Regions from separate parts of the Homo sapiens genome. Here regions 1 and 2 are each linked to region 3. Evidence: fine-mapped expression QTL. A gene starts in region 3. Each other region holds a variant in brackets. All regions are shown on one strand. Distances are from middle to middle. Region 1 overlaps ALPL (alkaline phosphatase, biomineralization associated). Region 2 overlaps ALPL (alkaline phosphatase, biomineralization associated). Region 3 holds the start of ALPL (alkaline phosphatase, biomineralization associated).

Region 1 (8,177 bases), 54 kb after region 3:
CTGATGTCAGCCCAGCCCTGGGACCTCCAAGCTGTTAAGTCAGGTACAGGTTGTAGCGGGTCAGGGTGGGTAGAAGGTCTTCACCACCCAGTGGCACCCAACTGGCCAAAGAGGCTCTATGACCAACAGCACCGTGGTGTGTTTTGAGGAAGGCAGGAGGGAGGCTGGAACCAGCCTGGGCCTGGGGGACCTCTGAGGAAAACCTCTGGCCCCGGCCTTGCCCAGACTTTATCTCATGTCATCCTAGAACTGCCTGTGGATAGCTACGGGTGTCCCATTTCCTGGGGCAGAAACTCTTGTCCAAAGGCACCCTGTCGGGCAGAAGGGCCAAGGTGCTCCCAATTCCCAGTGGGGACTGCGTGGGGACATCTGAAATTGATGCCCTCAGCAGACACTTCCAGAAGAGAGAGGGTGGACCTGGGGCTGTCGGGATGAGGGTAGTGGGCTGAGGGATTGGGGTGGTGGTGACGTAAGGGGAGGCCTCTTGGGGAGGGGCGTGGGGTGTGCTTGGGTCCAAAGCTAGAGGTGCACTGCAGCACCCTGGCGGCTCCTCGCCTGTGCTCTGCGCCTATGCTAGGCTGGGGCAGAGCCACGGCGACGCGTGAGTTTCCGGTTCTCCCACTTGGGGCCCTAATCTCAGGCTCTCCATTTCCTAATGTGGAGGAGACACTGGTGCCCACCTGCCAAGGCAGTTGAGAGGAATAAGAGAAGCTGTGTGGGGGGTCCCTGGCATCTCGCCCAGAGCCAGTGCGTGTGTGAGGAAGGAGGGCTGTTCTTTACCCACGGCCACTCCGAGAGCCAGGCACGCGTCGGAGCTGGGCCAAAAGATGAGAATTGTGTCCCCAGCCCACGAACATGCTACACGGCCTTGGACAAGACCCTCCCATTCCTGATCTCTCCTCCCGTTCTGTGCAGTGGGAGGCCTTGAAAGAGGAAACCGCTAGGGAGCCTCCTCTCTAGGCTTCTGAGCAGATCTGATAGGGCCCTGGGACAGAGGGGAGCCCCGCAGACTCTGGGAGGGACTCCAGCTCCCATAGCCAGGGTCCTGGTCCAGCCCTGGAGACGGGATAATGGGGATGGGAGGCAACTTTTGAGCCTCTCCTGTGGGTCAGGTGTGTCACTTGCCTTATCCGGCCCAGTCCTTAGAGCGACCCTGAGGGGATGATGCCAGCAATGTCATTTAACAGGGGAAGAGACTGAGGCTGAGGGAGGTGACAGAGCTAGTACTTGGAGCAGCTGGGGGTTTTTTGTTTGTTTGTTTTTGAGACGGAGTCTAGCTCTGTCACCCAGGCTGGAGTGCAGTGGTATGATCTCAGCTCACTGCAACCTCCGCCTCCCGGGTTCAAGCAGTTCTCCTGCCTCAGCCTCCTGAGTAGCTGGGACTACAGGTGCACACTGCCACGCCCAGCTAATTTTTCATATTTCAGTAGAGACGGGATATCACCGTGTTGCCCAAGTTGGTCGCGAACTCCTGAGCTCAGGTGATCTGCCTGCCTCGGCCTTCCAAAGTGCTGGGATTACAGGCATGAGCCACCATGCCCAGCAGCTGGGGTTTTAATTGAGGTCTGTCTGGCACTAAAGCTGTGGATTGGTTGCTGGACACACACACACATGAGAAAGAGGGAGAGAGAAAGAAGTGTTCTTAGTTCTCATTTTATCTCAAAACCATAAAGCCCCAGCCAGAAGTCACTATCAGCCAAGAGGGATGGAGGGGGCGATGAGAGATGCAGAATGTCGTCCTTGATAACTAATCCTAACAAGAGTGAGATCACCTGGCTCCTTTAAATTTGACATATTAAGCAAAAGGCAAGCTTCGCTTTCCAGCACTGCTATTAAACCAAGTCAGGTTCCTGCTGAGCCTACTTTAATGAATAAGCTAAGCAGAGTTGATAATTGATGGCTGGCTATATCAGGGGACCCCTTCTGCTGGAAGGAGTTTGTTGAATAGGTTAAACATTACTCTCTTAATTGTGCTAGCACAATTCATTTGCTGCCTTAGCAGCTCATCTCCCTACTGGGTAGAAGGAATGAGCATGGGCTTTGGAGCGAAACCCAGCCCTGCCAGTGTCTGCCTGTGCTGTGTGGCCTTAGGCAAGTTGCTCGTTGTCTCTGAGCCTTGGTTTCTTCATTCTGAGATGTGAGGAGAAGACCCCAGGGTCCACAGGCTTTTCTGGAGGATCTGGATGGCACATATTTATAAACCACAGATGTGTTGTCTGGGTGGGCAACTATTGCACCCACCTCCAAGTTCAGGCATTCCAGCCTGAGCAATCAGAAGTGGGGGGATCTGTACGTCTGGAGATAGGAGGCTATCCTTACCCCGCCAAGTAACTGCCTCTCTCTGTGTTTAGAGAAAGAGAAAGACCCCAAGTACTGGCGAGACCAAGCGCAAGAGACACTGAAATATGCCCTGGAGCTTCAGAAGCTCAACACCAACGTGGCTAAGAATGTCATCATGTTCCTGGGAGATGGTGAGGCCCAGGGGCCTGTGGGAGGGGTGGAACAGGACACCTAGCTAGGAGCCCCGGGAGCCAGGCTGAGTTGAAGGGGGCTGTGTTGAAGGGGCTAGGGCTCTGGAGGAAGGGTGTTTAAAAGGATGAGGGGCCAGGCTGTGGATTCAAGAGGCCTGCTCTGCCAGACAGCCCCCTGAGGATCTGGGGGTGAAGGGAGAGAGGGGCTGCTCACTGACATTTACAGAGCCATGCCCAGTGCCAACTGCCCGAGCCTGCCTTGGTACCGAACTAGAGAGCTTCTGGGTACCCAAGCAGGCTGATTGGAGAGGCAGGAGCACGAGAGACTGAGGCCCCCACTCCCCACTGCAGGGATGGGTGTCTCCACAGTGACGGCTGCCCGCATCCTCAAGGGTCAGCTCCACCACAACCCTGGGGAGGAGACCAGGCTGGAGATGGACAAGTTCCCCTTCGTGGCCCTCTCCAAGGTGAGCCCCATCCCCAAGCCCAGTTCAGGTCTGTATATCCAGTATCCAGGTCGAGCATCTGAACATGACAGCAGCCAGAGGTCCCCTGACCCCCTGAGCCCCCTCCATGCCCAAGCCCACTCCCCACCTGGAGCAGCCACTGCCCTGACTTCTGACACCATAGCATCACTGTACCTGCTTGCGGGTGTGTGTTTAGAGAGAGGGTCTTGCTCTGTTGCCCAGGCTGCAGTGCAGTGGTGCAGTCATAGCTCACTGCAGCCTCCAACTCCTGGGCTCAAGCCATCCTCCCACGTTAGCCTCCCGAGTAGCTGGGACTACAGGTGTGTACCACCACATATGGATAATTAGAGACCCCCCCAAGGTCTCTAATTCTTGGGCTTAAGCGATCCTACAGCCTTGGCCTCCCAGTCTTGGGATTACAGGCGTGAGCCACCATGCACGGCCTATATATGCCTTTTTTTTTTTTTTTTTTTTGAGACAGTCTTACTCTGTCTTCCAGGCTGGAGTACAGTAGCATGACATCAGCTCACTGCAACCTCTGCCTCCCGAGTTCAAGTGATTCTTCTGCCTCAGCCTCCCAAGTAGCTGGGATTACAGGCATGCGCCACCATGCCCAGCTAATTTTTTTATTTTTAGTAGAGACAAGGTTTCACCCTGTTGGCCAGGCTGGTCTCGAACTCCTGACCCCAGGTGATCTGCCCACCTTGGCCTCCCAAAGTGCTAGGATTACAGGCATGAGCCACCGTGCCTGGCCTGTATACACTTTTGCATGAAGTTCCAGTTCATTCATTCTTTCCCGAGGCAGTTCGTGAAGTTAATTAGACTATAGGCATACCTCAGCTATACTTCGGGTTTGGTTCCAGGCCACTGTAATAAAGCAAATATTGCAATGAAGCAAGTCACACATTTTTTGGTTTCCCAGTGCATATAAAAGTTATGTTTGCACCCTACAGTAGTCTTTTAAGTGTGGGATAGCATTATGTCTAAAAAAATGTATATACCTTAATTTAAAAATATGCTATTGCTAAAAAACGCTAATGAAGTGAGCTCATGTTTTTGGAAAAAATGATGCTGATAGACTTGCTTGACACAGGGTTGCCACAGATCTTCAATTTGTAACAAACACAGTGTCTGTGGAGTACACTAAAATGAGGTGTGCCTGTACTGACCTAGGTTGTTCAAGGCAGTGTGCACTGCCGGGTAGCTATTGCTATTGGTGGTGGTGATAGTGGTGTTATGTAATAACCTCCAGACCCTGGGTCAGGCCCCAGGCTCACTTCTGGGGGAGTAGTGGGGACTATGGTGCCTTCTGTGCCTTCAAGGTGCTCTCAGGCTGGTGGGGAAGGGAGACAGGCAAATAGTTTTGGGGTCTCTGCTAAACATCCGGATGTAGGGCAACCCTGTGATGGTGGCCGCAGGGCAGGTGGCAGAGAAGTC[A/G]GCGCTGGTCTTGGCCCCACCCTTCCCTTCCCCAGTCCCCTTCCCCCTCACTTTCACTACCCTATCCCCAGACCCCCCACTCCTTCAAGAAGGCCCCTCCCTCTCCCTTCTCCAGGACTCCCCTGCTCCCCAACCCCTTGCTGGCTCCTGCAGCCCCAGGCCCGGAGAGAGGCCTCCGCTGACCCCACCTGAGCCCCAATCTTCCGCCGGACACTTCTCTGTACTTTGGAGAGCTAAGGTCCTGCCCCAGTGCTGCCAGGGTGCAGGGAATGATGGCAGGAAGCAGGCAGCTAGGTAGTCCTGTGGCTCTGGGGGGCTTCAGTGGGCAGTGGGCCTGGTCAAGGCTATGGGGTCCTCTCTGGTCCCTCACGCCCCAGTCCCCATGGTGTGAGTGTAGGCGGGGTGGGTGCCACTGGGGCGAAGGCCTGGCCATCTCCTGACCCTCCTCTCCCACCTGCAGACGTACAACACCAATGCCCAGGTCCCTGACAGTGCCGGCACCGCCACCGCCTACCTGTGTGGGGTGAAGGCCAATGAGGGCACCGTGGGGGTAAGCGCAGCCACTGAGCGTTCCCGGTGCAACACCACCCAGGGGAACGAGGTCACCTCCATCCTGCGCTGGGCCAAGGACGCTGGTGAGTCGGGGGAGCAGTGGGGAGCAGGGCCAGCTTCGTGGCCTGTCCAGGCCTCAGTCTTTCTGACTGTGTCATGGGAAGGGGCTAGAAAAGGCTTCTCTGTGGGGCTCCCAGCTCTGATATGCTGGGAGTCTGTAATATCCATGGGATTCCTTCCGTGACAGGGGAAGCTGAGGGTTTGGGGTTCACTCAGTGGTGGGTTCTGGTCCCAGTTCATTTCTCTGAGTCGATTCTTCATTTGACTATAAAACGGGTGGGAACGTAGCCCCCTCATAGGGTTGGTGTGAGGAGGGAGAAGTCAGCCCAGGGCTAGCCTGTGGGGTGCAGTCCATGGCCACGCCCCTTCCCTCCTCAGAATTGGGAGGCCCAGCCTGTGCCCCCAGAAGCTTTAGTCAGGGGCCAAGGCCAAAACACAGGTGACAAGGCCAACATACAGGTGACAGAGCCACAGTCCACTTGAGATCCCTCAGGGGTCCTGTGGGCGCCTTGATGAAGGGGAGGACTCCAGCCCAGGTGCTCACATCTCAAGGGCCTTCGGGGTGAGGGGAGAGGGTTCCAGAGGCAGTGTTCTGGCTGCTCGGCTACTTGGAAGCCACTGCCAGACACCTGCTGCTGTGGATGGGGAGACTGAGACCCGGGCAATCCTCAGAACTGAAGCGGGGGCCTGTCTTTAGCGGGGAGGGGGAAGGGAGGGAGGAGGCCTCTGGGACACCCCGATCTGTGGATAAAGCCAAACCCGCCCCTCCTGCACCCCAGGGAAATCTGTGGGCATTGTGACCACCACGAGAGTGAACCATGCCACCCCCAGCGCCGCCTACGCCCACTCGGCTGACCGGGACTGGTACTCAGACAACGAGATGCCCCCTGAGGCCTTGAGCCAGGGCTGTAAGGACATCGCCTACCAGCTCATGCATAACATCAGGGACATTGACGTGAGTGCTCGGGGGCAGCCGGGCAGGGACGGGGTGAGGCGGGGCCTCTGGTGGGCAGGAGGCCTCAGGCCCAGGCTGGCCCGGAGAAAGCAGCCTGGCCTGGCTCCCCACACACCTGGGAGGCTCCCAGCCCATTAGGGGATTTGCGGTTGGGCAGGCAGGCACTGTGGGATTTCTCTGCGGTGGGGCTGCGGGGTGAACCCTCATGTGACCGCCACCACACCCCAAGAACCAGGCATCCAGGGATGATTCCATAAATTGAAACCTGGTGCTGTGCCCTCCTCTGCCCCCCACTACACGGGAGGTGGTGATGGCCAAGTGTCGTCTGCCTGCCCTGCGTATTCACATGGTCACAGATGGGTACATATCTGTACACTCAACCACCAGCATGCCCGGCAAAGAGCTGGTGTGTACAGTGGTTGGCTAGTGCCAGCTCTCGTGTTTAAACTTCCGAGTTCCAGACCTTGCCCTGCGTGTTGCTAGCTGTGTGACCTTGGGTCAGTTACTTAACCTCTCTGAGGCTTCCCTTTCACAACTCCTTTGTGAACTGTACCTGCCTCATAAGCTTATGCCAAGAACTGATTAAGATAATCCCTGTGGAGCTCAGCACAGGACCCGAGGCCTAGCGAGTGCCCAGAAGGTGGTGGCACTTACGCAGGAGCCACATGTCCTTGCCCTGAAACACACTTCAACAAACTGAGCTGACTCATGGAGACAGAAGTCATCCATGTGACGCTTACTCTCTGTTCTTAAGTGAGAATGCCCGGCTCGTTCCTTTTCAGGCTTTTATTGCCTACTGTGGGGGACTGCTGAGGCGATCTGGGGACTTCTGCCCCTTGAGCCTGGAATGGGGATTCGGTGAGGGGCAGAGAAAGCCCCCCTGCCCAGCTACACCTCACCTCTTTCTCTCCACCACCAGACAAACTCACCTGCCTTCAGCCCTCCATGCACTGCCCCCCACAAATTTCTGGGGGCTACTTGGCCCCTCCACAGTAGAGACCCACGTCTGCCCTTTTCCCAGCATGGTGGATTAAGTACCCGCTTTCAGGACACACAGTGCTGTTGGCCCCTTTCACTGAACAGACATCTGAGGCCAAGCCACTCATCCTGGCTTGCCTTCACCCGACATGTGGCCTGGGGCGAGTTCCTTCCCCTCCCTATGCCTCAGTTTCCCCACCTGTGCAGCAGAAACAGAGAGCCACACTTGCTTGCTCCCAGGGCCGTGGGAGGCCGTGATGAGGTCATGGATGTGAGAACATTTGTTGTACAGGCACAGGGTATAATTACATGGGGACTGCTCCTCAGAGGGGTTTGTCAGGGACAGCCTGAGCAGGGGACAGGAACTTGAAGGAAATTCGAGGGGAGGGAAGATGTTTCAGGTGAGGGGGTGGGAGATGAGGAGGGGGGGCCGCAGGGGCCACGTCAAGGGGCACAAGCCAGGGAGTGAGTGAGGACGGAGGACCTGTGTGAGGATCCCTTTCTTTCCTCCTCTTCCTTTCTCTCCCAGCCCCACCTGCCTCTCCGTCACCACCCCCCCAAAAGCCTCCCAGTCCCCAGACTGTACATGAAACAAAAATCCTGGTGTCCACCCTGAAAATAAATACTGTTGCTTAAAAAAAAAAAAGAAAGAAGAGAAAGAAAGAAAGAAAGACACAAACCTAAACCCCAAAGCCAAACAGCAAGTCTGTTATTTGGGAGTTTAATGAGCCCGTGTGAAGTCGCTGCCGGGCTGGAAACGATGAGGCTCCCTGCAGGAAGATTGGGGGCTTCGTTTTCCACTCTGAAGATGCCAAGAGGTCAGGTTCTGTGGGAACAGTTGTGGGGGGCGGGGCAAGGGACCCGTGACCTGGGGTCCCCTTCTCCTTCTTCTCCCAGCCCACCCTGCCCCCTGAGCTCCTGGCTGCAGCTGAGAGCAAGGACTCTGCCTCTCTGAACCACTTGTTTCCCCACTCCTTCTGGCAATAGAAATGCCTTCCAGTGGCAGCCACCCCCTGGGTGCTGGGGACTTCCCTGGGTGACTGCCTTTCCTCCTGTGATGGGTCTGTGGATGGATGTTAGTTGCATTTTATTTATTATTATTATTTTGAGACGGAGTCTCATTCTGTCTCTAAGGCTGGAGTGTAGTGGTGCGATCTTGGCTCACTGCAGCCTTCACCTCCCGGGTTCAAGCGATTGTCCTGCCTCAGCCTCCTGAGTAGCTGGGATTATAGGCGCACATCACCACGCCCGGCTAAT
Region 2 (8,149 bases), 40 kb after region 3:
AGAAATAGAGGTGTAAACAGACTATAGCCTACACTTGTGCCAATCACCAAGTTTTGGGGGTTTTTTTGTTTTTGTTTTTGTTTTTGTTTTTTTTTAAGACAGAGTCTCACTCTGTCGCCCAGGCTGGAGTACAGCATTGTAATCTCAGCTCACTACAACCTCCGCCACCCGGGTTCAAGCGATTCTCCTGCCTCAGCCACCCAAGTAGCTAGGATTACAGGCGCCTGCCACCATGCCCAGCTAATTTTTGTATTTTTAGTAGAGACAGGGTTTCATCATGTTGGCCAGGCCGGTCTCGAACTCCTGACCTCAGGTGATCCACCCTCCTCAGCCTCCCAAAGTGCTGGGATTACAGGAGTGAGCCACCATGCCCAGCCACCAATTACCAAGTTTTAGCCAATCAAATGTCGCCAACTGTTCAAACCGTGTTCAAATGACAAGTGCTAAGCTGTAACCAATCTGACTGCACCTCACTTTCCTTTTCTGTTCATAAATCTTCTTCTACTAAGTGGCTGCGCTGGTTCCTACTCCGGCTCAGGAGGCTGCCTAATTTGCAGATCGTTCATTGCTCAATTAAACTCTTTTAAATTTATTTTTTTATATTTTATTTTATTTTATTTTGAGACAGAGTCTCGCTCTGTTGCCAGGCTGGAGTACAGTGGCACGATCTCAGCTCACTGCAACCTCTAACTCTCTAGTTCAAGCGATTATCCTGCCTCAGCCTCCCGAGTAGCTGGGATTATAGGCACACACCACCATGCCCAGCTAATTTTTGTATTTTTAGTAGACACGGGGTTTCATCATGTTGGCCAGGATGGTCTCGATTTCCTGACCTCGTGATCCACCCACCTCAGCCTCCCAAAGTGCTGGGATTGCAGGCAATTCTTTTAAATTTAATTCAGCTGAAGTTTTTCTTTTATCAATAGGGCTAATAATCCCCACCCTGCCAGTATCACTAGGATGTTGTGAGGATCTGACGCAATTTGAGTTACGGGAATGTTGAGAAAGAAAAGGGCGTAATGGAGTAACGAGATTAGTTTTCCTGTTATGGTGAGGTCAGTGGCCTTTCTGGGGTCAAGAAGAGGGGACTTTCCTTGGCACCAAGAGGGTAAAAGTGTCTCCTCCTGACCTTGGGTATTTTGGACCATGGGATCTGAGGTGTACCAGGAGACAGGAAGTGTGATCAGAAAAGGCCTGGTCTAATGGTGCACAGCTGTGCATATCCAAGTGGCTTGACCTCTCTGGGCCGTTTCTGAATCTGTGAGATGGGAATCATAACCACTCTCCTGACTTCACAGGATGTTTTAGGAGAGATTGGATCTGGGTTGGGGAGACAATTTTGGAAGCAGAAAAGGCCCCTCCGTGCTGGCAACAGCTCGTCCACCTCCAGCCTGTGTGTGCTGCCTCCTGGGTGACTGCTGGCTTTAGGCCAGCGCCTGGCAGGGCTTCACTAAAGCCTCCGTAGGCTGCTGCTATCTCAGTTCTGAGGTACGGGCCGTGGAGACCCCCAGATTTGGGCTTAAATCCCAACTCCACCATTGCACCTCTGAGCCTCTGTTTCTCTGCAAATGGGGATACTAGTCCCTAGCCCAGATGGGGCCTGGTACACAGTTGGTGCTCAATAAGAGCAGTTCGTCTTCTTCTGAGCATGGGTGCATCCCTCTGGCTGGGGTAAGCACCAACTCAGATTTCTAGGCCCATAGATGGGCTGGAACAGCTGCTGCTGTTAGGGGAAAACCTACTGTGTTACTAGCCAAGGGGTTCCCTTCCATGTTTTTGCCCCACAGGGCACCTGGCACAATGTCTAGCATACAGTAGGTGCTTTGTCCACACTGGCTGGTCAGTTACCTCCAAGCTGACAGAAACTCTGTCCCGTTCCCGACTGTTTCCATAGAACCTAGCACAGAGATACTCAGCAGGTGCTCTGTAGGTGTTTGGGAGTGAGGAATGAATGAACAAAGTTGAATGAACAAGCATCGGGCCCTCCCCCGGGGCTCAAATGGGAGAGAGGAGCTTCGTAGCCTGCTCCCCCTCCCACCCCAGCACCCCGTTTCATCCCTTCTGACTAATCCACAAAGATTAACCCAGGGATAAAGCGGGTCACGGCCACTGACCCAGGGCTTTGGAGCTAGTGTGACCGAGTGTGTGCAGGGCGTGGTGGCTGCTCCCAGGGGCCCTCTTTGCCCCAAGATGGCCCTCCTGTCCCCCATCCTGGATGTGGTCCTCACGGTGGCCCTCAGCCTCCTCCTCCTGGGGCTGATCCTGGGCCTCCTTTGTTTCTTCACTTGCCGCCTGGCCAGGCCGCTCAGGTAGGGGAACTCAGCTGGCCTGACTCCCCCTGCATCCCGCCAAATTCCCTGCCCTAAGCTCGTTCAGCTTCCATTTGTTCTCGTGAGATGGAGCAAGCGGGGCACTCATTTCTCTTACTCTTCATGGTGGGGAAACCAAGGCCCGGAGAGGTTGAGCCCTGGCGTCAGCCTGGGCTTAAATGGCGCATAGTCGAAGACTAGCCAAACCCTCTGTTGGGTTTCCTAAGCTACAAAACGGGGGCTCTTCATCCATATTGTGAGATCAGGGATGTAAACAGCATGGGGCTGAGTGGAACATGAGGGCCTAAGAAATGGTAGTGACACGTTTGTCCCATTCTTCTATCATTTGCCCCAGATCTTCTGAGACCCAGCCCAAGGCTGGCTTTTTGCCCCACTCCAGGATGCTCCCGGGCCCTCTGCCTGGGTTGCTGAATCAGTCCTCAGAGCTAAGGCCTGCCTGGCTCCTCAGCCCCCTGCACTGAACTGCCAAGTAGCTGCTCCTCTGGCGCCACAGCCTAGCCGGGGCTTCTGCACTGGCCATGCGTAATCAGGCTACGGAGGAGCCGGGAGCCTGGCAGAGAAGGGAGGGAGGGGGTGGCGATGGGGCTGACACACACCCGGAGGCCCCATTTTAAGCTGGCAGACATTGGCAGAGGGTGGTGGGCAGCCGGGGCCCCCACAGCCCCAAACTGGGCCCCTCCGCTTCCAGGGCTGCCACAGAGCAGCCAGGAGCCTCTGCGAGGGGGAGGGGTCCTAGGGGTGGGGCCAGCAGGGAGGCTCTGGGTTCTGAAGGCTTTCCCAGGTCCCCACCCTCTCCTTGTCCTGAGCGGAGGCTATGGGAGAAGGCACCTGCCTCCAGGCCAAGCCTATCTCAATGCCTATCCCTGGGGCCAAAATTCAGAGCATCCCAGCCTGAACTGGTGGCACTTATGGAACTGCTACCATGTGCAAGGGCTCGGGATGCAGAGATGGGTAAGATG[T/A]TGGTCTTTACGTTCACAGAGCTTCAGGCTAGCAGGGAGGAGAGACAGACCAATAACCGGAAGAATAATCATGTGGGGCTGGATGAGCCTTTCAGTGCTCCCGGGTCACTACACTTTTATTTTTCTTTATTCGCTCACCTGTTTTGGACCCTCAGTGCAGAGAGAGTGGGATACGTTATCTCACTTAGCACATGACATACCCAAATAAGCTCTCAGTTCTTGTTTTGTTTATTCATTTTTTCCTTTGTCCCTGCTCCCTGCCTCCCCACTGCCATTCCCACAGCTCACCGAAGTCCCTATGCTAATGTACTTAATATGGCCTTGGAGTTGTAAGTGTCCTTGTACGTTACACAGCATTCTGTCCGTGGGGGTGGTTTGCACTTACATACACTGCGTTTGATTCTTTACATTCATCACTCAGTCCTCTGCCTTTAGACCCCACCACGCTGCTGTTTGGACATCTAGTTTTAATACCACTGCCACGCAGACATTGCCTCCACCACTCCTTACTAATTCATTTCCCTAGTTGTGGACGAGACTGCCCCGGCTCCTCACCATCATAAGCCAGTGTTAAAAGGAGTTTGCCAAAGCTTTCTCCAGCGAGTATGATGGTTTCTGCAGGTTCTTGGCATAAAGCCTTTATCAGATTAAGGAAATTCTTTTCAATACCTGGTTTGCTGAGGGCTTCTGTCACATCGTTTTCTGTGACCCCATTCCCTCTCCCTAGGTGAGCACGTCAAGTTTGATCAGGGTGTTAACTGCCACCCCTGTGCCTATGATTCCCAAATTTATACTCTAACCCAGACTTCTTTTTCAAATGCCAGAGCCAAATATTCAGCTGCCTCCTTAGTGTCTCCACTTCTAAAAGACATCTCCAACTCAACATATCCAAAAACAAGTTCCTGATTGTCTCCACCTCACGCCTCAAAAGACCACCCCAAACGCCGAAAGGCTGAATGCTTTTTTCTTTTTCTTTTTTTTTTTTTTCTGAGATGGAGTCTCACTCTGTTGCCCAGGCTGGACTGCAGTGATGCGATCTCAGCTCACTGCAAACTCTGCTTCCTGGGTTCAAGTGATTCTCCTGCCTCAGCCTCTCAGGTAGCTGGGACTACAGGTGCACACCACCATGCCCAGCTAATTTTTGTAGAGAGAGTTTCACCATGTTGGCCAGGCTGGTCTCAAACACCTGACCTTAAGGGATCCACCCGCCTCAGCCTCTCAAAGTGCTGGGATTACAGGTGTGAGCCATCGCACTTGGCTCGGTAGTATATGGCTCAGAAACATTGCCATTTACAATAGTTCCCCAAAAAGCAAAATTCTTAGGTATAAATCTGGATTCAGAGTCCAGAATGCTAACCATTACACGATGGAACCCGTAGGTATAAATCTAAGAAAACATATCCAAGATCTACAGGCTGAAGACTACAGAGTGCTGATAAAACCGAAGAACTCTGACTGAATGAGTGGAGAGACGTGGTGTCTTCATGACTGGGCAACTCCATGTGGTATAGACGTAAACCCTCCCACATTGATCTGTGGATTTAATACCATACCTATCAAAAACACAGTGGTGGAGGACAGATCAGGGATCGCCAGGTTTAGGGATGGGGGGATTGTGTAACTATAAAGAACGCAAGAGAGATTTTTGGGGTGGCAGAGCTGTTCTGGGTCCTGACGGTGGCGGTGGTGGTTACATAAATCTATCCATGTGTCAAACGTCAGAACACTCATTTTACACTTGGGGGCAACAGAAATCCCTCCCTCTGGAGGGGGTGACTGATGGTAACCTGATTGCTAATTCTGGAATCAGGAGCCCTGTGGTCAGGTTTCTGCTCTGCAACTTCCTGTTGGTAACCTTGGGCAAGTCTCCGTCCAGAGCCTTGGTTTTCTCATCTGTAAAAGGAGATGATAGGTCCTTTTCTGTCCACTGCATAGCTGATTAGTGAAACATCATGGTGAAATTCTTTATGAACTATGGAGTGCAGCACATAGACTTGCTTTCATTTTGTCAGTATCCTTTATAGATTGTTCATGTAAGCTCCCAAAGAGTAGTATTTATTTTATTGAAATAAAATGCACGTAGAGAAAAATGTGTGTATCATACATTGACAGCTGAACCCACCGTGTAACCAGCACCCACCCACCCAGATCAATCATAAACCGAACCGCACCAGCACCCCAGCAGCCCGTTCCCGTTTCCGTACCCTCCACGTGGAGCCTCCGTTCTGTCTCCCAACGCCCTGGGTTAGTTTTTATACTTTCTGTCATCGGAATCACACTGTAAGTGCTCTTGGGTTTAGCTTCCTTTGCTCAAGCTTACCTTGTGCGATTCATTCATGTTGTTGTGAGGAGCTGTGGATCATCCATTCTCCTTGCTGTCTGTGGTGGTTTCTGTGTTGTGAACACACACAATGTATTATCCAGCCTGCCGTAGATGGAGGCAGTTTTGAAGCCATTATAAACAGGGCTGATGTGCACATTCTGCTGGAGAGAAACGGGTCCCAGGGTACAGGTAGGATGATCAGCTTCGGTAGATCCTGCCGGTTTTCCCATGCGCTGTGCCTGTCTGCACTCCACCAACGGCGAGCGGACCTTCCGGTAGTTAAACATCTTCACGAACTCTTGGACTTTCCTGCACACACAGAGAAGATAATTTTGGATGGCTCTTCCCTTCCCCCCACAACCTTCCTTAGGGCACTGGCTTTCAACTGATGTAAATATTTACTATGCCAAGCACTAGGAGGGCAGAGACAAACAAGACAAAGTCCTCACACTTAGAAACTCCCGGTGTGGCAGCTGAGATGGCCCAGGAAAGAACTATATTACCTTCAAAAAGAGAGGTACATGCGATGTTTGAGGTGGCATGAAGCTCAGTGGTGTTATATTGGAATGAGTGAGTGACCATCCTGGAGCCTTCCTGAAAGAGGTGACTTCATTTTTAAGTGATTTTAAATAATAGTTTAATGAATTAGTATTTCGTATTCAGTTAATAACATTTTTCTGATTTTAGGATTTGCTATAGAAATATTTGGAAACCGTAAAGTAGAACAAAAAAAAAAATGTAGGAATCATCTGAAATTCCAAATTCTACCACTCACAGTTAAGTGTTGTTAGATGTTAGATGTGGGATATTGCCTTTTAATTTCCACTCTGCGCCGCTACCCCCAGCCCCTACCCCAGAGCCGTCACTTCTGGCACTGGAGCGCAGCTTGCGTGGTTTTTTTTTTTTTTTTTTTTTTTTTTGAGACAGAGTCTCGCTGTCGCCCAGGCTGGAGTGCAGTGGCGCGATCTCGGCTCACTGCAAGCTCCGCCTCCCGGGTTCACGCCATTCTCCTGCCTCAGCCTCCTGAGTAGCTGGGACTACAGGCGCCCGCTACCTCTCCCGGCTAATTTTTTGTATTTTTAGTAGAGACGGGGTTTCACTGTGTTAGCCAGGATGGTCTCGATCTCCTGACTTCGTGATCCGCCCGCCTCGGCCTCCCAAAGTGCTGGGATTACAGGCGTGAGCCACCGCGCCCGGCCATTTGCGTGTTTTTAAGGTTGAATCAAGATCCTTCTTCTGGTGGTAGTGGTTTCTTTTTCTCCCTTCCCTTCCCTTCCCTTTCCTCCCCTTCCCTTTCCTCCCTCCCCTCCCCTCCCCTCCCTCCTTCCTTTTCTCCTTTTCTTTTTCTCTATTTTTAAATTAAAAAAAAAAATCTTGGATGGGCGCGGCAGCTCACACCTGTAATCCCAGCACTTTGGGAGGCCAAGGTGGGCAGATCACCTGAGGTCGGGAGTTCGAGACCAGCCTGACCAACATGGACCCCATCTCTACTAAAAATACAAAATTGGCCGGGCATGGTGGCGCAAGCCTGTAATCCCAGCCACTCGGGAGGCTGAGGCAGGAAAATTGCTTGAACCCGGGGGGCGGAGGTTGCAGTGAGCCGAGGTTGTGCCATTGCACTCCAGCCTGGGCAACAAGAACAAAACTCCGTCTCAAAAAAAAAAAAAAGAAAAAGAAAAAATCTTTTTCCTTTGAGCTGGAGCTGCAAAGAGAAGAATTTTTAAAAAGAAAAGAAACTTTTAAAAAATTAAAATACAAAAATTTTTCTTAGAGACAGGGTCTCGCTGTGTTGCCCAGGCTGGTCTCCAACTCCAGGCCTGAAGCGAACTTCCTCCAGCCTCAGCTTCCCAAGTAGCTGGGATTACAGGCATGTTACCACCATGCCTGGCTTTTTTTCTTTAAACAACTTTTAAAAAATGTTTTATTTTGTTTTTACTTAACATATAATAATTGGACTAGAGTGGTGTCTTATCTGTCACAACACTTTTCTAACGGTAGAGTGTGTATTACTGCTGTTTCCCACAACAAATGGTGTCATATCTTGGTTTTGGCTGAAGCAATAACATTTCCCAGTGAAACTCTTGCCACTTAAAATTCTTTGTCTTGTAACTCATGTGCAACAGGGTTAGTACATTTCTCAGCTGCCAGTGGGGTTGTTCTTTGTGATTTAACAGGAAGACCACAGTGTAAAAACATTCTTATGCCATTAATACATGCTTGTTTTAGGCTACTTGGAAAATTCAAAAAAATAAAGAGGAAATAATCATTCATAGTCCTACCACCCAGAGAAAACCACAGTTAATGTTTTGGTGTATTTCCTTCCAGTTTTTTTTTCCACCTAAACTCTTCAATTACATCCGACTTTAAATATATATATATTTTTTAAAAATTGTAAAGATAATACTGTATCTCAGCACAAAAGAAAATTTTGGAAATGCAGAAAAGACAATGGAAAAGAAAAATCAGTTGTCTGTGATGTCACCACCCAGAAATGGCCACACTTACCAGCCAGTTTTTTCACATATGTGACTCCTACC
Region 3 (8,153 bases):
CCGCCCACCTCGGTCTCCAAAAGTGCTGGGATTACAGGCGTGAACACCCTCGCCCGGCCTATTTATTTATTTATTTATTTATTTAGAGACAGAGTCTCCCTCTGTTGCCCAGGCTGGAGTGTAGTGGCACCATCTCGGCTCACTGCAACCTCTGCCTCCCAGGTTCAAGTGATTCTCCCGCCTCAGCCTCCTGAGTAGCTGGGAATATAGGTGTGCACCACCAACCCCAGCTAATTTTTTTTTTTTTTTTTGGTATTTTTAGTAGATACGGGGTTTCTCTACGTTGGCCAGGCTGGTCTCGAACTCCTGACCTCAAGTGATCTGCGCACCTTGGCCTCCCAAAGTACTGGGATTACAGGCGTGTGCCACTGTGCCCGGCCCCTGTTATCTTACTAACTTACTTATTAATGTTTGTTGTTTATTATCTACCTTCCCAACTAAAGTGTCAGTTCCGTGAGGATAAACATTCTGTTTTGTTCACTGGTATGTCCAGTTCCTAGAAGGGTGCCTGCTGCAGAGCAGGCATCCAATAAACATTTGTTGAATGAATAAGGTTGCCAAGTCTGCCTGGGATAACAGCCTGCTCACTGGAAAGGTGACGATGACAACAGTGATGGTGCTTTGGTGTTGCAGGGAGGAGCAAGTTAAATCTCACCTATAAAGATCTTTCCATCAGGCTGCAGACACAGAGGGAGTCCCCAGCAACAATAGCTCATATATGCTTCAGTTTCCTCATCCGTGAAGAGAGAATAAAAGTCCCTACTTTTATTAGCGTCCAATTGCCCTGGCCACGGCAGCATTGTCGGTTTAATGATGCTGCTTCGGCTGTCGTAGTCTCTTCCACCTCATGCCTTTTGGTTCATTTTTTAACTGAGTTAAAGGTGGGGCTGTAGGTGGCACTGGGAATCAAATGGCTGAACTTGTGCTCAGGCCTGGGCTTGAGATAAAATGACCCCTTTAGTCCAAGCATCAAAACAGACCAAGGTTTCAGGCCCCCTTGCCTTTAAATAGATTTCAGGGATTATTTTCTCCAGCCCTAGACCACAGCTGACTCCTCACCGCCTCTCCACGAACAGACCTCAGAGTTTTGTTTTCTCTGTCTCTCTCCTTTCTTTCTCCTTTATCTCTGTCTACTGAGGTCCTGGCTGTCCCCCTGCCCCACCCTACCCTATGCTCTTGGGCTTCTGGCCTCATCTCTAACTTAGCTTCTAATTTTTTCTCTTCTTTTCCTTTCTTTTTTTGAAACAGAGTCTCACTCTGTCACCCAGGCTGGAGTGTAGTGGCGTGATCTCAGCTCACTGCAACCTCTGCCTCCAGGGTTCAAGCGTTTCTCGTGCCTCAGCCTCCCAAGTAGCTGGGACTACAGGTGTGCGTCACCTTGCTCGGCTAATTTTTATGTTTTCAGTAGAGACGGGGTTTCACCGTGTTGGCCAGGCTGGTCTCAAACTCCGGACCTCAGGTGATCCACCTGCCTAGCCTCCCAAAGTGCTGGGATTACAGGCATGAGCCACCACGCCCGGCCTAACTTAGCTTCTAATTCTAATGCCTGGTGAACCTCTTAAATTTTTTTTTCCCAAGACAAAGTCTCACTCTGTTGGCCAGGCTGGAGTGCAGGGGTGTGATCATAGCTCACTGCAGACTCTAACTCCTGGACACAAGAGACCCTCCCATCTTGGCCTCCCAAAGTGCTGGGATTACAGGCGTGAGCCACCATGCCTGGCCTGCCTAGTGAACTTGAAGGTCTAGCTTGCGGCACAGGCTCATGGCATGCACTTAACAGATACGGAATAAATGGATGAATGGAAAAAGCCCTGGACTGGGAATAGTAAACCTGGTAACCAAACCCAGCTCTGACCCTGACCTGTAAGTAACTACTATCTCTGGCCTTGGTGTACCCCATGTATAGTGGGGATTGTAAACACCTGCCCTGCCCACCTTATGATACTGCTGTGAGACTCAAAAGACATCATTAGCTCTTAGGCACAGGGAGCTTGGAGGTTAAATCCAATTTGTTTAGTTTTCAACAAGGAAGTGGTGCCCCAGGGACAATGATGGAGAGAAATCGAATGTAATGAGCTGTTGCCACCAGCTGAGTGGTCCTGAAATCATGGCATCTGGGTTGCACTTAGAGATTGTCCAGTTCAAAAGGCCAGAAGGAATCTGAACCTCGATGGGAAAAGTGACTTGCTCAGCTCCCCAGCAAGCCAGGGCAGAGCTGGAGGATGGACTGGAGTCTCCTGGTTCCAGGTCCAGGACTTCTTTCCGCTGTGTTGACAGAGCCAGGAGGAGGGGCACCCGGGGAGCAGGGGAGGCAAGGGCTGCTGGATGCCCCATCTCAGTTGAATTCTCCTTGAGGGACCCAGCCCAGGAGCAGAGTAAGAGGGTTTGAGGGTGGAAGGTGGCAGGGCTGGCCAAGCAGTATAGTCCCTGCTGCTGATAACCAATCCCTGAAATCCCGAGGTGGAGGGACTTGAGGGCAAATCACAGACATGGGGGACCTAATGCTGGCCATGTGGCTCAACCAGAAGTGCCCGTCCCTCATAGCTTTGGGGAGATCAGAAGTCAGGGATAGGGTCGGGTGTGGTGGCTCATGCCTGTAATCCCATCACTTTGGGATAAGGAGGCAGGGGGATCACTTGAGCTTAGGAGTTCGAGACCAGCCTGAGCAACATAGCAAAACCCTGTTCTTTACAAAAAAATACAAAAATTAGCCGGGCGTGGTGGTGCACACCTGTAGTCCTGGCTGCTGGGGAGGCTGAGGTGGGAAGATCACTTGAGCCCGGGAGGTCGAGGCTGCAGTGAGCTGACATCATGCTACTGCATTCCAGCCTAGGCAATAGAGTGGGACCCTGTCTCAAAAAAAAAAAAAAAAAAAAGTCAGGGGTGCTGGCCCCATGATAGGTGCAATGGGTGCCTCCAATTCCCTCTGGCTCTGCCTCCCAGCCTCTGTCCAAGCAACAGGCAGATTTTCCATGCCTGGGGACTTGCCCCTGGCTCACTGATGATGATACCATCTTAAGTCTCCTGGAATCCTTAAACCCTTCCTTGGCATTTGTGAGCAAGTATTGAGCCCCTCCCATGTTTTAGGCCCAGTGCTGGGTGCTTTCACCTGCAATTTCTTACAGAGGATGGTATTTCCTAAACTCCATTCATTTGCTACCTCCATGATTTTTGCCATATCACCCAACCCATGAAATACATAAATAAATAGTATTTACTCAATATTTTGACTCACTTTTAAAAAACATAAACTTATCTGAAAAGGGAACCTATGTCACGCCTCTAAATAAACAGTATCAACCAAAAATACAAAAGAAACAAAAATAAATACAAAGACATTCTTGGTTTCTGGCACCAGGCCCCAGTTCTGGCTCCAACCTTACTGAGAAGTCACATGATCTCTCTGGGCCTCAGTTTTCTCCTCTGGAAAATGGAGCTTTTGGAAGTTAATGCATGCACAGTGCCTGGCCCTGAGACTGGCATGGAGTGAGTGGAAGAGAGGTTGCCTGACCTGGCTAAAATTGGTTCTCTGGGCAGACATTTTCCCAAGGGCCACTGAGAAGACCCTCCTGTTAGGAGTCAGTGAGCTCTGTCGCTGGAGGCATTCAAACAGAGCCTGCGGACTTCTCACTGCGAAGTTGCCCAGAGAATTCAGTGCTCAGAGGAAAGGGAGTGGTTATTCCATCAGAGCTGGTTCCCCAGGAGCGGGAGCAGGGCCTGTAGCACCCAGCCTCTGTCCCTGGCTCCCGTCTATCCGGGATTTTAGCGTTTCCTCTGTAGTTTTCAAGCACTGTCTCATATGACTCTCGCACCAGCGAGAGGCCAGGGGAGATGGTGTCTGCCTGTTAAAGAGGGGCAGGCTGGTCCACATAGGTCAAGTGACTTGGCCAAGGTCACCAGAGCAGAGTTTTGAACTTGAGCTGTCTGACTCAACTGCCTGGGAAGTGCCTGCCCCTCCTCTGGCATCCAGGGAGCATGTCCTGGGGCTCTGGCTGGGACATAGCCGGACACCTGCGGGCCCTTTACGTCTCTAAAGAGAGAAAGAGGGAAGGGCCCCTGTCTAGGGGGTGGTTTCCCTCCAGATGCCACCCCTCCGAGGTCCCCTTCTGCTTCTTCTTGCGGTAGCCAGGGAGGCAGCCCACGGGCAGGGAAGCGGGGGTGGGGGTGCAGAGTCAGAGGTGCACGTGGACAGAGACAGAGAGACAGGGACACGTGGGCAGAGACGGATAAAGACAGAGACCCAGAGAAAGCCAGATATGTTGACAGACACAGAGACAGACGCCAGAGAGGAAGGCAGACAAAGAGACGGGTGGAGACAAAGACTCCCACCAAGAGACGCAGAAGGAAGATGCCGACGGTAAAGACAAAACAGGAGACGCGCGCAAGGAGCAGGTCAGAGCCCAGGCTCGCTGAGAGAGGAAGGGCTGGGCTGGGGCAGCCCGGAGGCAGAGAGACCGAGAGTGCGGGGCGGGCGAGGGACGCCAGGGCCGCGTCACCCCAGCCCGTTCCTAGCTCCGCTCCCGGCAGGGGGCGCCCTGGCCTCGTGGCACGACCGGCCCGCGGGGCGCGGGGCTCGGGCCGGGGGCGGGGCCGGGGCCGGGCTGGGGAGGGGTTGGGGCCGGGGGCGGGGGAGGGGGCGGGCTGCCCGGGCCTCACTCGGGCCCCGCGGCCGCCTTTATAAGGCGGCGGGGGTGGTGGCCCGGGCCGCGTTGCGCTCCCGCCACTCCGCGCCCGCTATCCTGGCTCCGTGCTCCCACGCGCTTGTGCCTGGACGGACCCTCGCCAGTGCTCTGCGCAGGTAAGGATTCGACGCTGCCCCGCGCCCTGGTTCCCCAGGGCCCCAGCGGACGTGGTCCATCCCCTTCTGCATCCTCCGCTGGCCCCGTGGTTGAACTTTAATGGCAGGGCCGGGGTCTCCAGCGCCACGCCGCCCACAGCAGCCCATTCGGGACGCCCTGCAATTGGTCCTGCCCCTGTCCTCCCGCGCATCCCAAGCTCCCGGCGCGCGCTCTGGGCGGGACAGGAGATTGGACGTGGCGCCCGCGGAGCCGGCGAACTCAGGGGACCGCGCTCGGGACCGCCCTGCAGTCCCAGGGTCTCCTACCTCCCGAGCCGCTGCCTGGGACCCTGCGCTCTGTCTGGGCACCTGCCCTTGGTGCCCCGTGACTGAGCCCCTCCTGGTGCCTCCTTAGCCGTAGCTCTAGAGACCTGGGCTGCCAACCCCAAGGCCTCGTGGCCTGGCGCCCTCCCAGGCGTCCCACCTGACCCGGTGGGGTCTAAAGCAGTTTGGTTTGGGAGGAGGAGAGGGCAGGAGGCGCTTGGAATGGGGGGCGTGGCGGGAGGAGACAGAGGACACCCGCGTGGGTGTCAAAGTGTGGGCACCCACTGTGGGCACCGCAGCTGTGGGGCAAAGCTCTGGAGCCCGCGAAGCCGAAGGAGCCTGCCGCCCCCTTTAGGCTTTGCGAGGTGGGCCTCCCAGGGCTGCTTCCCTGCCCAGTCTTGGTAAGAAAGGGTTAAACGCAGGTCTCAGCAGAAAGGCAGGAGGCCGAGGAAAGCCTCCCCCACTCCCCATTGTGCCTTATGACTCTTTTTCAACACATAATGGGGTCGAAGGCGGGGCCTTTACAAAGGCCTCTGGGTGGAGGGTGAAATTCCTTGAGATCAAAAGAGGGGGCGATTCTTGGGCCAGGAAGGGCTTTGGGCCCTGGGAAAAAGTCAGACCGCTCAGGTGGGCCCAGCTGCCCAGGGAGGCAGGGGTTGGGTCCCAGCCTCAGTGTAGATACTGCAACTGTTTTTTGAAGGCCTACCGTGCGTAGAGGGACCTGCTCTGACATCTCATGTACATCATTTCATTTTACAAATGGGGAAACTGAGGCTTAGACAATTTAAGTAAGTGGTGGGACCAGGGTTTGAATCCAGACTCCAAACTCTGCAGCCCTAGCGTCCTGCTCCCACTGTGTTGCCTAAGAGATAGGGGGCTGAGCCTTGGTTTTGTCTTCCGGCTCCTCCTGGGCTCAGCCCGCTCTTCCTCCACTCTCCAGTCTTGCTCTTTCCAACTGTTTAGTCCTCCCCACCTGTGGGTGTCCCCACGCTGTCCTGCCCCAGCCATCCCACTCCCTGGCCCCATGCATCTTGTTCCTGTGTCACCTTTTTCTTTCTTTAACTGAATACCTGTGAATTCCCTCAGAAGAGGCCCCTGGACACAGCTTCTCAACATCCCAACTGGTGAAGACTAGGCTGAGTGATGATCCCGGTCCATGTGCCCATTTGTAAAAAGGGGTGTATTCCCCTTTCGGGACTATTGTGAGGAATAAAACTGAACTGAGGCCAGAACAAGATGCTATCTTCATTCAGCAAATACTTAAGCATCCGCCGTGTGCCAAGCTCTGTTCTAGGTGCCGGGAATGCCACAGTAAATCAGCCAAAAGCCCTCTTCTGGATTGGATGTTTGCATAACAAAATTCTTTCAGGCTTTGAAACTGTCAGAATTCACAGTGTAGACTTGAAATCAAGCTATTCATAAGGAAGGAGATTAAGACGCAATCACCTGTAAAATGGATTGGCCAACCTTTGGCCCTCACTTTAGCAAAGGCAGCCTTGCTGTGGGACCTGGGATCAGTTCTGTTCCCTCTCTGTGCCTCGGCCTCCTCCCATAAGCTGTGGAGATCAATAGTGCCTACCAGTGGTGAGGTCTAGATATGATGAATGCTTGCGAAGGGTTTAAGCTGGTACCTGTGCTTAAGAAAATCCTGGCTATCCTCAGCTCTCTTCTCAGCAGAAAATGCAATGCGGAGACTGGAAGTTGGGTTATGTGCCTACCCTGCCTCTGAACCTGTTACCCACTTCTGCCCAGGCCCTTCCCATCCTGTTGGGCTACACATGTGGGGTGGCATGGTGCCCTCTTTGCTCACACTCAGATGCCACCTTCTGTCGCCATCCTAAACACAGCCTGGGCTGGGAGCGCAGAGCTCCATGATGAGATCAGCCCTGGAGCCATCATCTCTGCAGCGCTTCCTGCCCTCTGCCTGTTCTTGTGCCTCACCGTGTCCTAGCTCAGGACCAAACTCAGCCCTGTTCTGTCCCATGACTTACATACCCAACATTCCCTGCAAGCTGGATATGATCTTGGAAAGGGGAAGTGAGTTGCCCAGAGGCACACAGATGCTACCTGAGGAGCTGGGGCTGGAGCCTGCGTATCTAGAATTCCAAATCTAGCAATCTCCATGCTGTACCCATCTCTGGGCATATGAGGCCTTTTAATCCAGGGAGTAGGATCCAGTAGCAGAGCCCGAGTTCTCACCTTGAAATCAGTCTGACTTGGCTTTTTAATACAAAACCCAGAGCTCTGAGAGAACATTGCTGGGAGAGTGAGCAAGCTGGGCTGAGAACCAGCACTCAGAAATCTCCATGTGGCCACAGGAATGCTGACTTGGCTTCCCAGCACCATGTCGTCGTCCTTGGCAGGCTGGAGCTGGGCTTTGTGGTATGTTAGATTTGTTTTTTTTCTTCTGGAGATGTCCTCACTTTCAGAGGGCAGTTAGGGGCAGTAGACTGAAGGTTCATTCCCAGCACTGCCATGCGACCCTGGACAAGTCACCTTCCCTTTCGAAGCCTCAGTTTTCTCATCTGCAATATGGGTTAAAATTATATACTTTGCAGGGTCGCAAGATCATAAATGGTTTTCCAACTTTGGGCTGAACCAGCATTGATGTTATTAAGACATTCATATTTCCTGTGGAGCAATTTCAAAAGCAGTTAACTTTATCCCTACCAGGTGATCCTGAGGGCCTGAGGGAAGTCCACGTTTAGGTCACAAAAGCCTACACAGCAGGGAAAACACTGGTTTGGGGGCTGGTGTCTTGGATTCCAATCGCCAGCTGTGTGACCTGAGGCAAGTCACTTTACCTCTCTGAGTGTCAAGCTCATAGGAGGCCCCCAACATCAAGATATGATGCTCAGTGTCTGAAGAACATAGTCTCCGTATTTTTCTGCCTCCTTGTACCAGCTCCCAACCCCCCCGCCAACACTTCGTTAATTGCTCCCAGAAAAACTCTATGCTTAAAGTTTTCCATGCTTAAATTCTCAGCCTCACTGTGGCATGAAATCAATTGTTTGCATTGAATTTGACTTCTCAAATTAAGGGGTAAAATTTG

The links.
Region 1: its variant is fine-mapped to the expression of ALPL in whole blood (INTERVAL, PIP above 0.99).
Region 2: its variant is fine-mapped to the expression of ALPL in whole blood (TOPMed, PIP 0.96).

What each region holds. Positions count from the first base shown.
Region 1 is chr1:21,558,275-21,566,451 of GRCh38, forward strand. It overlaps ALPL (alkaline phosphatase, biomineralization associated), which reads left to right. Exons shown (of 12, transcript NM_000478.6): 3 at 2,352-2,471; 4 at 2,823-2,938; 5 at 4,836-5,010; 6 at 5,767-5,942. Among named protein-coding and RNA genes, the nearest start is that of LINC02596, 24 kb to the right of the region's middle. The variant A/G (reference allele first, on the strand shown) is at 4,376.
Region 2 is chr1:21,545,214-21,553,362 of GRCh38, forward strand. All of the region lies in intron 1 of ALPL (alkaline phosphatase, biomineralization associated), which reads left to right. Among named protein-coding and RNA genes, the nearest start is that of LINC02596, 37 kb to the right of the region's middle. The variant T/A (reference allele first, on the strand shown) is at 3,290.
Region 3 is chr1:21,504,720-21,512,872 of GRCh38, forward strand. ALPL (alkaline phosphatase, biomineralization associated) reads left to right here and starts at 4,704. Exons shown (of 12, transcript NM_000478.6): 1 at 4,704-4,798. RefSeq lists a silencer at 4,512-4,611 and enhancers at 4,647-5,217, 5,218-5,787.